Linked DNA regions of Homo sapiens: region 1 is linked to region 2. The links come from fine-mapping of genetic effects on plasma protein levels. A gene starts in region 2. The other region holds a variant in brackets. All regions are shown on one strand. Distances are between the middles of the regions.

Region 1 (7,000 bases), 10 kb after region 2:
GCAAGTCTGGCCAACATGGCGATACCAGGTCTCTACAAAAAATACAAAAATTAGCAGGCGTAGTAGCATGCAACTGTAGTCCTAGCTACTCTGGAGGCTGAGGCAGAAGGATCGCTTGAGTCTGGGAGTTCTAGGATGCAATGAGCCATGATCCCACTACTGCACTCCAGCCAGGGTGACCAAAAAAAAGAAAAAGAAAAATTATATCTGATTGTTTTAATGTGAATTTATTTATCTAGTTAGTGAGTCTGATATTTTGGGTAGTTGCTGGCCTACTTCTGTTTTATTCTTTCTGCTCTGATGGACTTAACCTTTATTCATATTTGTTGCGAATTCTCTCCTTTTTTTCTGTTCAGTCACATGGAAATCGTATAGGCTGTTTTTGGAGTCACAGTGACCCCCAGTGGCAAAGGATGGTAATGTTTCAGCGGCTCGTTTGTTGCAGGAAGAGAGGCAGCCAAGTATGAGATCTGCTTAACGTCCTAGAATGACCAGACTGGAAGGCGCTACAGACCCGCTGGCATAGTTAGCTGGGAGGGACACTAAGATCAGATAGAGCAGGAAGGAAAGTGGTGTGGGGCGTGGGTGACTGAAGAGTCATTTTATCAAGTTGAAACCAGAATCCAGGATGATTCGATCTCCTGAATGCCGGGCTGGAAAACCCAGCAACGAGCTTTGAAAACATATCACCCGGACACCAGGGGCAGAGGCTGTTCTGGGCGGGAGGTTGTGCCTGCCCCACGGAGCGACAGAAGCGGGGAGACCAGACGTCGACCCTGAGGCGTGCCTCCTGGGGGGCTCCAGTGGCCGGCATGGGGTGGGTGTGGACTCTCTGCACTGCTAGTGCCTGCCTGACCTTGCTGTTCTGGAGCCAGACCCCAGGGAAAGCATTCCAGATCCCGTGCCCCCCACCACACCTTTCCCATTGGTGCTTGTCTCCTATGCAAATGGATGATGGTTGTGCTCGGCTTTGCGTGTTGTGGACGGCGTGGATGAGATGGAGGGTGCTCATGTGCTCTTGTCGGGTGTGGTCCACAGATCTTGGGATCTTCCTTGGCGTGGCCTTGGGGAATGAGCCTTTGGAGATGTGGCCCTTGACGCAGAATGAGGAGTGCACTGTCACGGGTTTTCTGCGGGACAAGCTGCAGTACAGGAGCCGACTTCAGTACATGGTAACCACGTGGGCACCAGCTGTGTCCCTGTCCCCGCGTCCCGGGGTTCACCTGGCATAGGCCTCTGGACATTCAGAGCCCTTCTTAGGACCTGTGTCAGCCCTGAGCCGACCATGGCCTGTTTCTCTGCCTTTCTCCGAAACCTACCCATGCACCTGGTCTGCACTTACTGACCCTCCTCCTGCCATCTCCTGGGGCCTCCACCCCTCCTCCTCGATCTCACTTTAATCCCACCTCCATGATGGCAGTCACCATATGACTCAGGAATGGACACCTGGAGCTCTTTGACAAACCCCAGGCACTTATTAGCCAGGGAGCTAAAGACCTAGAAATCGGAATATTTGGTTCTTTTTGCAGAGTGGAGATGTCTGTGTGGCTCTATGTATCTTTTTTTTTTTTTGAGACGGAGTCTTGGTCTGTCACCAGGCTGGAGTGCAGTGGCTCAATCTTGGCTCACTGCAACCTCCACCTCCCCGGTTCCAGTGATTCTCCTGCCTCAGCCTCCCGAGTAGCTGGGACTACAGGTGCGCGCCACCATGCCCAGCTAATTTTTGCAATTTTAGTAGAGACGGGGTTTCACCATGTTAGTCAGGATGGTCTCCATCTCTTGACCTCGTGATCCGCCTGCCTCAGCCTCCCAAAGTGCTGGGATTACAGGCGTGAGCCACTGCGCCCGGCCCTTTTTTTTTCTTTTTAATTTTTTAACTTTTCCTAAAAATCCTTTTCTTTTCTTTTGAGACAGGGTCTTGCTCTGTTGCCCAGGCTGGAGTGCAGTGGATAATTTCAGCTCACTGCAACCTCCACCTCCAAGGCTCAAATGATCCTCCCACCTCAGCCTCCCAAGTAGCTGGGACTACAGGCATGCACCACCATGCCCAGCTAATTAAAACTTTTTTTTTGAGTAGAGACAGGGGTTCACCATGTTGCCCAGGGTGGTCTTGAACTCCTGGGCTCAAGCAATATGCCCACCTTGGCCTCCCAAAGTGCTGGGATTATAGGTGTGAGCCACCATGCCTGACCAATGTATCTTTTTAAATTAATTAATTTAATTTTTAGAGACAGGGTGTCACTCTGTTGTCCAGGCTGAAGTGTAGTGGCGGGATCATAGCTCAGTGTAAACTTAAACTCCTGTGCTCAAGTGACTGTCTCTCCTCAGCCTCCCAAGGTGCTGGGATTACAGGCGTGAGCCACTGCACCTGGCTTGTGTCTTTTTTATTTTAACAGCTTTACTGAGATATAATTTACATATTTATATATAAAAGACATAATTTACTCATTTAAAGTGCACAACTCAAAGAGTTTTTAGTTCACAGAGTTGTGCAACCATCACCATCATAGGTTTTAGAACATTCTCACCCACAAAATAACATGTTTTTCTTGAAGTAACGTGTCCTCACTCTTGAGCCTGAAATTTCTGCCTTAACAGGAACTGTGTATTTTGTTTCACCCACCCTGAGTCCCAGAGGAAAGTGAAGTGTTTTTATCCCAGCTGGGAGCCAGGCACACCTCTCTGCACAGGACCACCTCTGCCGTCAAAGGTCTGGGCCCTGAGTTCTCTCCTCCTACATCAAAATTCATCTGGAGGCCGGGCATGGTGGCTCATACCTATAACCCCAGCACTTTGAGGGGCTTGAGCCCGGGATTCAAGACCAGCCTGGGCAACAAGAAGAAACCCCATCTCTACAAAAAATAAAAAAATCATCTGGGCGTGGTGGCACACACCTGTAGTCCCACCTACTTGGGAGGCTGAGGTGGAAGGATTGCTTGAGCCTGGGAGGTCAAGGCTTCCGTGAGCCATGATGCTGCCCCTGCACTCCATACTGGGTGACAGAGTGAGACTAACTGTTAAAAAAAACATCATTTGGGAGGTTGGGGAGCCTGCTGGTCATTTCTACTTCTGGCCTCATAGTTTGTTCTTGTGCCTCTCCAGAAACACTACTTCCCCATCAACTACAAGATCAGTGTGCCTTACGAGGGGGTGTTCAGAATCGCCAACGTCACCAGGCTGGTGAGAATCCCTTCCTGGGCTGGGGGGACCCTGCCTCCTGCGACATCCGGTGGGCCCCAGCCTCAGAGGCGCGCTGGGACTGGCAGGTGGTGCTGCTGGCCTGGGGCCTCTCCTCAGCCCCGAGAGCAGGCTGGCCCTTGGCCCAGGCACATGTTTGTCCACTGTCCACAGCGGACGGCCCGCGTCTGCTCCCTATGCAGGGGCAAGTCCCTGGTGAGGGAGTGGTCAGAGCCCAGAGGCCCATGTCTCCCGAGTTGCAGTGACTTCCCTGTTTCCGCAGCAGAGGGCCCAGGTGAGCGAGCGGGAGCTGCGGTATCTGTGGGTCTTGGTGAGCCTCAGTGCCACTGAGTCGGTGCAGGACGTGCTGCTCGAGGGCCACCCATCCTGGAAGTACCTGCAGGAGGTGGAGACGCTGCTGCTGAATGTCCAGCAGGGCCTCACGGTGAGTTGTGTGGAGGAGTGGCAGGTGGGGTGTGTGTGTGTGCACACGTGTGTACATGTGTGTGAGGTGTGGCCAAAGGCTAGTGAGGGAAAGGGTGAATACACGGAAAGATGGGCACAAGCAGAGGGACGTGGGAGAAGTGGGGGAGGGGTGCAGGAAAAGAGGCCTGTGGAAGGAAGAGGCAGCCGTGGTGGTCATGAGAGCCGGGCTCGGGGTGCAGGCGATGCCTCTGAGACTCTGTTCTAGGCTCTGCCTCTCTCCCTCTGGATCCTGGGCAAGTCATCGTACCCTCTTTGTTTCTGCAACACGAGGGTCCTGGAGGTGGGGTAGGGGGAGAGGGGAAGAATGGATGGAGCACAGGGAATGTTTAGGGCAGTAAAACATGCTGCAGGCCGGGCGCGGCGGCTCATGCCTGTAATCCCAGCACTTTGGGAGGCCGAGGTCAGGAGTTTGAGACCAGCCTGGCCAAATGGTGAAACCCCGTCTCTACTAAAAATACAAAAATAAGCCAGTCCTGGTGGTGGGCACCTGTTATCCCAGCTACTCAGGAGGCTGAGGCAGGAGAATCGCTTGAACCTGGGAGGCAGAGGTTGCAGTGAGCTGAGATTGCACCATTGCACTCCAGCTTGGGCAACAAGAACGAAAAACTCCATCTCAAAACAAAAAACAAAAAACTATGCTGTATAATGCATTCATGTTGTATACATGACATCATGCATTTGTCACAACCCACAGAACTGTACAACAGAGAGTGTGAGCCCTAATGTAAATTATGGACTTTAGTTAATTAAAAAAAGAGGTCCCCCATCCCTGACCCGCTCAGAGAAATTGATCTGAGGCCTCAGGGATATTATCCTCTAAAATGCCTGAGTTGTAGTAAAAAAGGAAGGTGGCGAGATGACCCATGCAGGCCGTGTGTGCGGTGGGACCTCTCCCCGTCTCCACCAGACCTCCTCAGGACTCTGGTGCACACCTGTCCCTGGGATCCACCTGCTGCCCTGCCCAGCCAGCTGCTGACAAGGCCCAGCTTGTCGGGAGAACATCCCAGGCCAACTGTGAGCTTCCGACGGTGAAAGGGCTTAGGGACTAGCACCTGTTTTGCAGCTGCCTGGAGCTTTCCTGGAACCAGACTGGTGGGGAGGCTGTCAATTCCTACAAAGTCAGGAGACTCCTTGATCTGCTTGGTGGCTCTTTTTCCTGTTTATTTCATTTTATTTCTTTTTTATTGTTTTAGAGATGGGGGTCTCGCTATGTTGCCCAGGCTGGTCTTGAACCCCTGGCCTCAAGTGATCTTTCTGCCTCAGCCTCCCAAAGTCCTGGGATTACAGGACTGGGATTACATCCTGCCTGGCCTCTGTGGTGGCTTTTTTTGTTTTTTTGAGGCGGAGTCTCACTGTGTCGCCCAGGTGCATTGCAGTGGGGCAATCTTGGCTCACTGCAACCTCCGTCTCCCAGGTTCAAGCAATTCTCCTGCCTCAGCCTCCCAAGTAGCTGGGATTATAGATGCCTGCCACCACACCTGTATTTTTAGTAGAGACGGGGTTCTGCCATGTTGGTTAGGCTGGTCTTGAACTCCTGGCCTCAAGTGATATGCCTCCCTCAGCCTCCCAAAGTGCTGGGATTACAGGTTGAACCACCATTCCTGGCCGTCTCAGTCTTTTCATGGCCTTCTGCCCTGTTTCCATGTCTGTCACCTTTCTCTTACAAGGACATCAGGCATTGGATTTAGGGCCTACCTGAAATCCAGGATGATGTCCTTCTAAGATCCTGAACTTAATTACCTCTGCAAAGAACCTATTTCCAAATAGGGTCACATTCACGGGTACCAAGGGGTAGGACCAAGACAGCTTTTTGGGGGAGGAGAGGGACAATTTGGCCCAGGACATGTTGCCTTGTTGTCACCCCCTTCCAGAAGATCACCCCCCACGTTTCCCATGATGCTTTCTACAGTGGCCCTGACCTCCTGTTCAGGGACTTGATTCCCTTGGTGCCACGGTGCACCCCACATGACCCTGTTGTTGCATATCGTGGAGAGAAAGCACCCCAGCTTGAAGCTGGACACCCTGCCCTGTGTATGTGACTTAAGCCTCAGTGTCTCTGTGAGGACCTTCTCTTGTTCCTTGGAGTTGATGGAGATGTCTGCTTCTTGAGGGACAGTTTTCCCCAGGTCAGGGGGTCCTCACGCAGTGGTGGGTGGCCGTGCCTGGGTGCAGTTTGCCCCACTTTCCTCACTGTCCTGGTCTACGCCCTTTACTCATTTTTCAAGGATGGAAAAGCGAAGCCTCTGAGTTGTACATGGGTGAGTGGTGGCATCTGGGACCCTCCCCATGCCCACAGGAAGAAGATGGTGAGAAATAGCTATCCAGGCTCATGGTCACAGGAAGTCTGGTCCTTCTTCCGGGGTTTGGGCAGCTCCAGGTGACTGGACAGCCCTCACGGCTCTCCTGGGGTGCGGCCCCATCTCGCCACCGCTCCTGACTGTTTCCTCCTTTCCAGGATGTGGAGGTCAGCCCCAAGGTGGAATCCGTGTTGTCCCTCTTGAATGCCCCAGGGCCAAACCTGAAGCTGGTGCGGCCCAAAGCCCTGCTGGACAACTGCTTCCGGGTCATGGAGCTGCTGTACTGCTCCTGCTGTAAGGAGCTCTCAGGGGATGGCGCCTGGGGGTGGGAGGCCAGGCATCTGGGCCCACCCAGGCCAGCTGGCAGAGCTGGCGTCCTCCCGGGCATATCCTCTGCTCCCCGGGGCTACAAGCCATTTCTGGAAGCCAGGATGGGCCCTGGGTAGAGTGGGGGACAAGCACATGCGGCTTGGCTTAGTGGGGAGGGTGGTCTTGAACACTGCTGCAGTCTTTTTTTTTTTCCCCTATCTCTTGCAGGTAAACAAAGCTCCGTCCTAAACTGGCAGGACTGTGAGGTGCCAAGTCCTCAGTCTTGCAGCCCAGAGCCCTCATTGCAGTATGCGGCCACCCAGCTGTA[C/A]CCTCCGCCCCCGTGGTCCCCCAGCTCCCCGCCTCACTCCACGGGCTCGGTGAGGCCGGTCAGGGCACAGGGCGAGGGCCTCTTGCCCTGAGCACCCTGGATGGTGACTGCGGATAGGGGCAGCCAGACCAGCTCCCACAGGAGTTCAACTGGGTCTGAGACTTCAAGGGGTGGTGGTGGGAGCCCCCCTTGGGAGAGGACCCCTGGGAAGGGTGTTTTTCCTTTGAGGGGGATTCTGTGCCACAGCAGGGCTCAGCTTCCTGCCTTCCATAGCTGTCATGGCCTCACCTGGAGCGGAGGGGACCTGGGGACCTGAAGGTGGATGGGGACACAGCTCCTGGCTTCTCCTGGTGCTGCCCTCACTGTCCCCCCGCCTAAAGGGGGTACTGAGCCTCCTGTGGCC
Region 2 (8,330 bases):
CCCACCATAAGGACCCCATCCTTGTGACCTCATCCAAACCTAATTATCTCCCAAGGCCTCATCTCCAGGAACCACCACATTAGGGGTTACAACTTCAACACATGTATTTTGGAGAGACACAAACATTCAGTTCATAACATGCTACAAAATGAATGAACCCTGAAAACATGCTAAGTGAAAGAAGCCAGACATGAAAGGTCCCGTATTGCATAATCAATCCCATTTATATGAAATGTCCAGAATAGGCAAATCCATAGAGACAGAAAGAATATTAGTGGCTGCCAGGGGCTGGGAGGAAGAGGGAATAGGGGGTGACTGCTAATGAGTTCAGAGTTTATTTTGGGGGTGATGAAAATGTTCTGTAATTAAATAATGGTGACTGTTGCACAACTTAGTACACTAAAAACCCACAAAGTTGTACACTTTATTATTTATTTTTATTTATTTTTATTTATTTTTGAGACGGATCTCACTCTGTCACCCAGGCTGGAGTGCAGTGGGACTACCTCGGCTCACTGCAACCTCTGCCTCCCGGGTTCAAGTGATTCTCCTGCCTCAGCCTCCTGAGTAGCTGGGATTACAGGTGCGCACCACCGTGCCTGGCTAATCTTTTGTATGTTTAGTAGAGATAGGGTTTTGCCATATTGGCCAGGCTGGTCTCGAATCCCTGACCTCAGGTGATCCACCTGCCTTGGCCTCCCAAACTGCAGGGATGACAGGAGTGAGCCACTGCACCTGGCTGTTGCACACTTTATTTATTTATTTTGAGACAGGGTCTTGCTTTGTCACCCATGCTGGAGTGCAGTGGCGTGATCATGGTTCACTGCAGCCTTGACCTCCCTGGCTCAAGTGATCCTCCCATCTCAGCCTCCCAAGTAGCTGGGACCACAGGCCCGTGCCACTACACCCACCTAATTAAAAAAATTTTTGTTGGTAGATACGGGTTCTCACTATGTTGCCCGGGCTGGTCTCAAAGCCCTGGGCTGAAGCGATCCCCCGGCCTTGGCCTCCCAAGGTGCTGGGATTACAAGTGTGAGCCATCACACGCAGCCTGTACACTTTAAAATGGTAAATTTTATGGCATGCAAATTATATATTGATTTTTAAAAAGAAAAAAGACTTAAGATGCACATCAGAGATTTAAAAAATAACCAGGGAAAATTGAACGTGGATTCTATATGAAATCATATTAAAGAGTTATTAATTTGAGGGTTGTGTGATGACAATATTGTGATTATATATTTTAAAAATCCCTACATGCTGGTGAAATGGCATGTTTGAGATTTGCTTTAAAATATTCCTGGAAAAAAAAATTGGGGGATGAGTGAAGCTGGAATGACAGAAGAGTGATCATTTTTTTCTTTTGTTTTGAGACAGAATCTCGCTCTGTTGCCCCGACTGGAGGGCAGTGGAGCAATCTTGGCTCACTGCAACCTCCGCCTCCTGGGTTCCAGTGATTCTGCTGCCTCAGCCTCCTGAGTAGCTGGGATTACAGGCATGCACCACCACACCTGGCTAATTTTTGTATTTTTAGTAGAGACAGGGTTTCACCATGTTGGCCAGGCTGGTCTCAAAGTCCTGACCTTTTATGGACAACTCTGTGGAAATAACTTTTTTGTTTTTCTATTGGTATTTGAAGTTGTTTTTTCCCCTTCTCCTTGGAGTTTATTCTGCCTCAACTGATTCACCCGCCTCGGCCTCCCAAAGTGCTGGGATTACAGGTGTGAGACACTGCACCCAGCCAGATTGACAATTTTTGAATCTGAGTAACTGCTATATGGGGGTCTGTTATACTATTCTACCTTGTTTCAGTTTGTTTAGACAACTTCCACTATAAAGGAATGAATTTTTTGGGTAGATGGAAATGTTTTGTATCTTGATTATTATAGTAATTACACAGCTCTATAAATGTGCTAAAAACTTTTAGAAATGTATACTGAAAAGGGTAAAATGTAGTATATGTAAATTAGCCCTCAATAAACCTGAAAAAAATCCCCAAACTAATGACAACTAAATGTTCTAGATACGTTAGTGTTTGTAGTGATGCTGTAACAGCAGGGGAATTGCCAGGGTGAGGAGGAGGAGGAGGGGGAGGAGGAGGGGGAGGGGGAAGAGGAAGAGGAGGAGGGAGGAGGGAGGAAAAGGAGGAGGGAGGAGGGAGGAAAAGGAGGAGGGAGGAGGAATGAAAAGGAGGAAGGGAGGAGGAAGGAGGAAGAGGAAGGAGGGAAGAGGAGGAAGAGGAGGAAGTAGGAAGAGGAAGGAGGTGGAAGAGGAAGGAGGAAGAGGAGGGAGGAGAAGGAGGAGGAAGGAGGAAGAGGAGGAAGGAGGAAGAGGAGGAGGAAGGAGGAAGAGAAAGGGAGTAGGAGGAAGGAGGAAGAAGAGGAAGAGGAGGAAGGAGGAGAAGGAAAAAGGAAGGAGGACGAGGAAGGAGGAAGAGAAGGAAGGAGAAAGGAAGAGGGAAGAGTAGGAAGGAGGAGGGGGAAAGAGGAGGAAGAAGAGGGAGGAAGGAGGAAGACGAGGAAGGAGGAGGAGGAAGAGAAGGAGGAAGAGGAAGGAGGAAAAGGAGGAAGGACAAGGAAAAGAGGAGCAGCAGCAGGCAGCGACTGGGGCTGAGATTCAGGGTGACTGCATAAGGGATTAACTTGAACAACCCGTGTTCTCTCTATAAGGCCCTGCCTGCCTGCTGGGCACCTCTTAGGGTAAGGGCCAGCATTCTTTGGTGACACCATGGATCACACAATGAAGAAGATGCCCAAGTCATACCTGCTCTCCCCCGATGGTGTCACTCTGTAGCCATTTTCCCCCACCAGAGGGGAGACAGGGAGGAGGCGAGGGGATGGAAGAGAACTAAATCAGAGACGGAATTCCAGCCTGATCTGCAGAGCAGACACAATGGTCCAGACCTTGCAGAGTCCAGAGGGGCAGATGGGAGGACCACGCACACACGCTGAGCCCTGTGTGGTTGTCGAATTTTGGGAGCAGCCACCAGCCCACAGGGTTTGAATTCCTGTCACACTTCTTACAAGCCGTATGACCTTGGACAAGTGTCTTAACCTTTCTGGGCCTCAGTTTCCTCATTGATAAACTGAGATTTTGCACTTCCATGAGATTGTTGTGAGAGATTCAGTGAATGTAAAGACCTTAGTCCTGGCCGGGTGCGGTGGCTCACGCCTGTAATCCCAGCACTTTGGGAGGCCAAGACAGCAGATCACTTGAGTCCAGGAGTTTGAGACTAGCCTGGCCAACATGGTGAAACCCCATCTCTACTAAAAATACAAAAATTAGCCAGGCATGGTAGTGCACATCTGTAATCCCAGCTACTTGGGAGGCTGAAGCAGGAGAATTGCTTGAACCCTGGAGGTGGAGGCTGCAGTGAGCCAAAATCACGCCACTGCACTACAGCCTGGATGACAGAGTCTGAGACTCCGTCTCAAAAAAATTTTTTTTTTCTTAATTTTTTTTTTATTAATAGAACTGAGGTCTTACTATGCTGACCAGGCTGGTCTCGAACTCCTGGGCTCACGCAATCCTCCCACCTTGGCCTCCCAAAGTGCTGGGATTACAAGCATGAGCCATTGCGTCCGGCTTGTTTTCGGAGTGGGAGCTCGTCTGCTTTTTTAACCTGTCCTTTAGCCTGAGTCATTCATGGACTCTACCATGGCTCTCGATGTGTGAACTCAAACCACCTGTTCATTCCTTGGTCCTGCTTTTGTTCAGGCCCCAGGCTGCCAGCTGGTGTCATCATAACTCACTCATGGGCCAGGGCCGTTCGGACATCCTGAAGTCATTTCTCACGTGAGCCGTGTCCAGCTGCCAGGGCCGGGTGGTCCTGTGCAGGCCGTGGGTGCGGTGTGCGCTGTGGCTGATGGCTGAGTGGCAGCGCTGCTCTTACATAATCAGTTTCTCTCCTCCTTTCTCTTCCTAGAGCCAGATTTCACACTGAGCAGCTGCAGTCGGAGAAATCAGAGAAAGCGTCACCCAGCCCCAGATTCCGAGGGGCCTGCCAGGGACTCTCTCCTCCTGCTCCTTGGAAAGGAAGACCCCGAAAGACCCCCAAGCCACCGGCTCAGACCTGCTTCTGGGCTGCCATGGGACTTGCGGCCACCGCCCCCCGGCTGTCCTCCACGCTGCCGGGCAGATAAGGGCAGCTGCTGCCCTTGGGGCACCTGCTCACTCCCGCAGCCCAGCCACTCCTCCAGGGCCAGCCCTTCCCTGACTGAGTGACCACCTCTGCTGCCCCGAGGCCATGTAGGCCGTGCTTAGGCCTCTGTGGACACACTGCTGGGGACGGCGCCTGAGCTCTCAGGGGGACGAGGAACACCACCATGCCCCGGGGCTTCACCTGGCTGCGCTGTGAGTACTGGGGGGTCCCTAGGGACCTGCATTGGGAGGCCTTGGCCTAGATCCAGGATCTGCCGTAACCATAGCAACCAGGGCATTCTTGCTGGTGAGAAGTTGCGATGCTTCCCAGCCGGACTGCAGACACCCTCTGAGATTCCCACGGCCGCCGTCTGCCCTGTCTGCCGCTCACTTCGGGCTCCGACGGGCAAGCTGGGTGGGCAGTTCTGGCTGGGTGGGCATGGTCCTCAGGGTGGTCTTAGGTCGGGGCAGGCACTGGGGGTAGGTGGCAGCATCTCACCTTTCCAGGCTTGTGGGTGTTGGGGAGCCCCGGGCGGGCAGCAGCGGCCCAGTCCTGGGTATGGCCGGTGGAGGGGGGCAGGGGCTGGTGAAAGTGTCTAGGGACCCAAGACCCACGGCAGAAGAGCAGCCAGATGCCTGGAGAAGGCAGCCTGTTCCCCTCCAACCCTCCCTCCATAACAGAACAGAATTAAAAAGCAGAAAGATAACACTGTTGGTAAAAAGAAAAATAAGTTGAAATGAGGACAGAAAGGAAAAAAAGGATCTGGAAGCCTCTTATGCCTGCTGGCTGGGAGGCCAGACCAAGATCCCCTCAGTCTCCAAGATCCAGTTCAATTGACTCAAATTCAACACATTTTTCCGGTGCCTCCCACGTGCCCACTGCAGAGTCACTGCCATGACAACAAGGACCTTGCTGTCTCGTGCCTCTGTCTCCAACGCCTGGCACAGGGTTGAGTGCTCAGGAACTGTTGGAGGTTTGGGGTATGAGCCTGCGAGGGATTGAAAGAAGAGTTGGGTCCACCCTGGCCCTTGTGGAAATATACAACAAAGGGTTGGGACATTAAGGATGGGTGGAAGGACCCAGCTGGACCCAATGTTCTGGAAACCCCTAGGTCATGAGAAGCAGGGGTGCAGCATGGGGGAGGGGCTACTGGAAATGGTCTAGAAGGTGGGGTGGTGGTCACACAGGTAGACCTGGGGTCATGAGGCCCATGTTCCAGGAAGAGGGGCCAGTGTGAGCAAAGGTTTGGCGGTGGGATGGTGAGGCCAGGCTGGGAGCTGGTTTGGACCCGGCTGGCTGAGGCCTTGAGAGCCAAGCAAAGTGTGCCTCCCTCCCCATAGCAGGCAGCCCTGGAGGATTTGAGAGCCCGGCGGGGGTGGAATCGTGATTGGGAGTTCCTCTGCTCTTGAAGATCAGTCTGGTGGTGTTTGTAGGAGTTACTGCTGTCACCGTCTGTGCAGGAGGGAATGAGGGTCATTCTGGAGGTGGAGGTGCGAATGAAAGGCAAGGGATGCTGGGCTGGTGGCTCACGCCCGTGATCCCAGCACTGTGGGAGGCCAAGGCAGGAGGACGGCTTGAGGCCAGGAGTTTGAAACCAGGCTGGGCAGCATAGCGAGACTCCATCTCTAAAAAAAGGAAAATTAGCCAGGTGTGGTGGCATACATCTGTAATCCCAGCTACTCAGGAGGCTGAGGTGGGAGGATCACTTGAGCCCAGGAGGTTGAGGCTGCAGTAGCAAGGATCGCATCACTGCACTGCAGCCTGGGCAACAGGGTGAGACCCTGTCTTTAAAAAAAAAAAAAAAAAAAAAAAGGAGAAAAGAAAAAGAGAGAAAGAAAAGCAAGGGAGAGGGGAAAAAGCTCCAGGAGGGGTGGGTCTTAGGACCAGGCAAAGACTGGCTGGGGGATGAGGGAGAGGGAGAGCAGCAGATTGAGGTGGGGGCTGGTGCCCAGGGGCTGGGGTGCTGAGGAAGTTGGGCTGCCATAACCAATTAGAAAGCTTCGGGTGGCTTAGAGCAACAGGAATGTGTCGTCTCACAGTTCTGGAGACCGGAAGTGTGAGATCAGGGTGCCTGCAGGGCTGCGTTCCCTCTAAAGGTGCCGAGAAGGAGCCTCCCTTGCCTCTTCCAGCTCCTGGTGGCTCCTGGCTTCCTTGGCTTGTGGCCTAGTCACTCAGATCTCCCTTTGTCTTTGCGTGGCCTTTCCCTTTGTGTGTCTCTATGTCCTCTCCTCTTCTTCCTAGGACACTAGTCACTGGATTTAGGGAACTGCCTAAATCCAGGATGGCCTAATCTTGACATCCTTCATTTAATAATGCCTGTAAGTGGCACAGGACAGGCGAGCCCCCAAGGGGGCTTAGCCTGCGAGGGTTCTTGGCTTTCCCTAGGAGAGAATTCAAGGCAAGCTGGTGGTAGAAGAAAACAGCTTTACTGAAGAGATGTTATAGCTCTGTGCCAGCTCCTGCAGAGCAGGGCTGTGCCAGAGGAAGCGTACTGAGGAGCAGCTCGGGGCCTTTTGCAGTCATATTTATACCCACCTTTAATTGCATGCAGATTAAGGGGCAGTTTATGCAGACATTTCTAGGGAAGGGGTAGTAACTTTTGGGACATTGGGTCATTGCTATGGAAAGCGGTGGTAACTCCCAGGCGTTGCCATGGCAATGGTAAACTGACATGGCACACTGCTGAGCATGTCTTTTGGAATGCTGCTTCTGCCCCGTCCACCCCTGTTTTCACTAGTCCTCAGTTTGGTCCAGTGTCAGGGCTCTGCCTCTGGAGTCGGTCCTACCTCCTACTTCACAAAGACCCCATTTCCAAACAAGGTCACACTCGGGTTCGGGTGAATGTGGATTTGGAGGAGATGCTATTTAACCCACTGCACAGGTTCAGATTTGGTCCCCGGGGCTGGGGGTGACAAGCCTCACTTGTCACTGCACATAGGGTCAACCCAGGGCCAGGGAACCAGGAAGGGAGTACCGTACTCACACAGATCTTTCTTAAGCCTCCTCTCTGTCTTGCAGGTTGTTTTATTATTTTATTTTTATTTTTATTTTTTGAGACGGAGTCTCACTCTGTCACCCAGGCTGGAGTGCTGCGGCACGATCTCAGCTCACTGCATCCTCTGCCTCTTGGGTTCAGATGATTCTTGTGTCTCAGCCTCCCGAGTAGCTGGGACTACAGGCACCTGCCACTGCGCCTGGCTAATTTTTGTATTTTTAGTAGCGATGGGGTTTCACCATGTTGGCCAGACTGGTCTTGAACTCCTGACCTCAGGTGATCCGCCCACCTCGGCCTTCCAAAGTGCTGGGATTACAGGTGTGAGCCTCCGTGCCCAGCCTGTGTTGTGGGTTCTTACCTCTGGGCTAAGACAAGGGCAGGGTGGGTCTCCTGACCAAGGTCAGGGGTGGCACTGGCTGTGGGGTTCCTGGTGTGCAGAGCATGTGGGGGACAGTGGCCTTGAGGTTGGGGCTGTGCTGTCCCTGCCTGGTCCCTGTTTGTTAACCTGTTTCTCTGGGTGGGTGGAGGCAGCAAAAAAAGAAACTTGCCCTTAGCAATGATGTTTGGGCTGCACTCAGAGGAAGGCTGCCCAGTTGGGGGAGAGGCAGATCATCTGTGGACAGGGTTTCCAGGGCAGCTGTGTGCCCACCGTGTCAGGCTGGGAGGCTCAGTGTCACTCCAAGGCACAGTCCCTGCCTTGAGGCCACAGCTGCCGGGTCCCCAGGGCCCCAGAACGGGACACAGAGAAGGGCAGGTGCTGTAGGGTTGGGAGGTGAAGTAGACGGCCAATGGTGATGGCCACACAGGAAAAAAGACCCAGTGTGGACAGAGGTACTGATTTTTTTAAAGAAAAGCTGAAATTTTGAATTGTTGTGTGAAATCCTTGTGGACCAGAGGTGGCTCTCGGGACACCAGCTTGCAACTGTTGCTCTAGGTCTGTGGTTCCAGACCCCCAGCCACAGCTTTACCTGGGACCTTGTTAGAAAGGTAGACTCTCTGCATCCTAGACTGGTTGAGCAGAGACTCTGGGGCAGGCAGGACAACCTGTGCCTTAACGAGCTCTGCAAGGGATGACAATGTCTGCTCCCATTTCTACTGCTTGAGGCGAATCCCCAAATGCACATGTGAAGTTCTCAGCACGCTGGGCTGTGCAGTGTTTAACTGCGTTATGGATTCACACACAGGCTCACGCCT

Direction of the effects. Positions count from the first base shown, and alleles are read on the strand shown. Strength reflects both the effect of a copy and how common the allele is.
For the plasma level of the protein whose gene starts at base 3,937 in region 2, allele A in region 1 goes with a lower level than allele C (strong association).

What was found. PIP is the posterior inclusion probability: the model's chance that the variant is causal. Protein levels are from antibody-based Olink assays in UK Biobank. Linkage for the fine-mapping came from a reference panel and not from the study's own genotypes, which makes the PIPs less certain.
Region 1: its variant is fine-mapped to the plasma level of the IL34 protein (UK Biobank, PIP above 0.99). The variant lies in the coding sequence of IL34. If it changes the protein, the assay may bind it differently, which can mimic a change of level.

The regions. Positions count from the first base shown.
Region 1 is chr16:70,653,500-70,660,499 of GRCh38, forward strand. IL34 (interleukin 34) reads left to right here. Exons shown (of 6, transcript NM_001393494.1): 2 at 1,039-1,172; 3 at 3,103-3,180; 4 at 3,461-3,622; 5 at 6,119-6,254; 6 at 6,498-7,000. The coding sequence ends at 6,688. Among named protein-coding and RNA genes, the nearest start is that of IL34, 10 kb to the left of the region's middle. The variant C/A (reference allele first, on the strand shown) is at 6,598.
Region 2 is chr16:70,642,623-70,650,952 of GRCh38, forward strand. It overlaps IL34 (interleukin 34), which reads left to right and starts at 3,937. Exons shown (of 6, transcript NM_001393494.1): 1 at 3,937-4,353. The coding sequence starts at 4,326. RefSeq lists an enhancer at 7,169-7,669.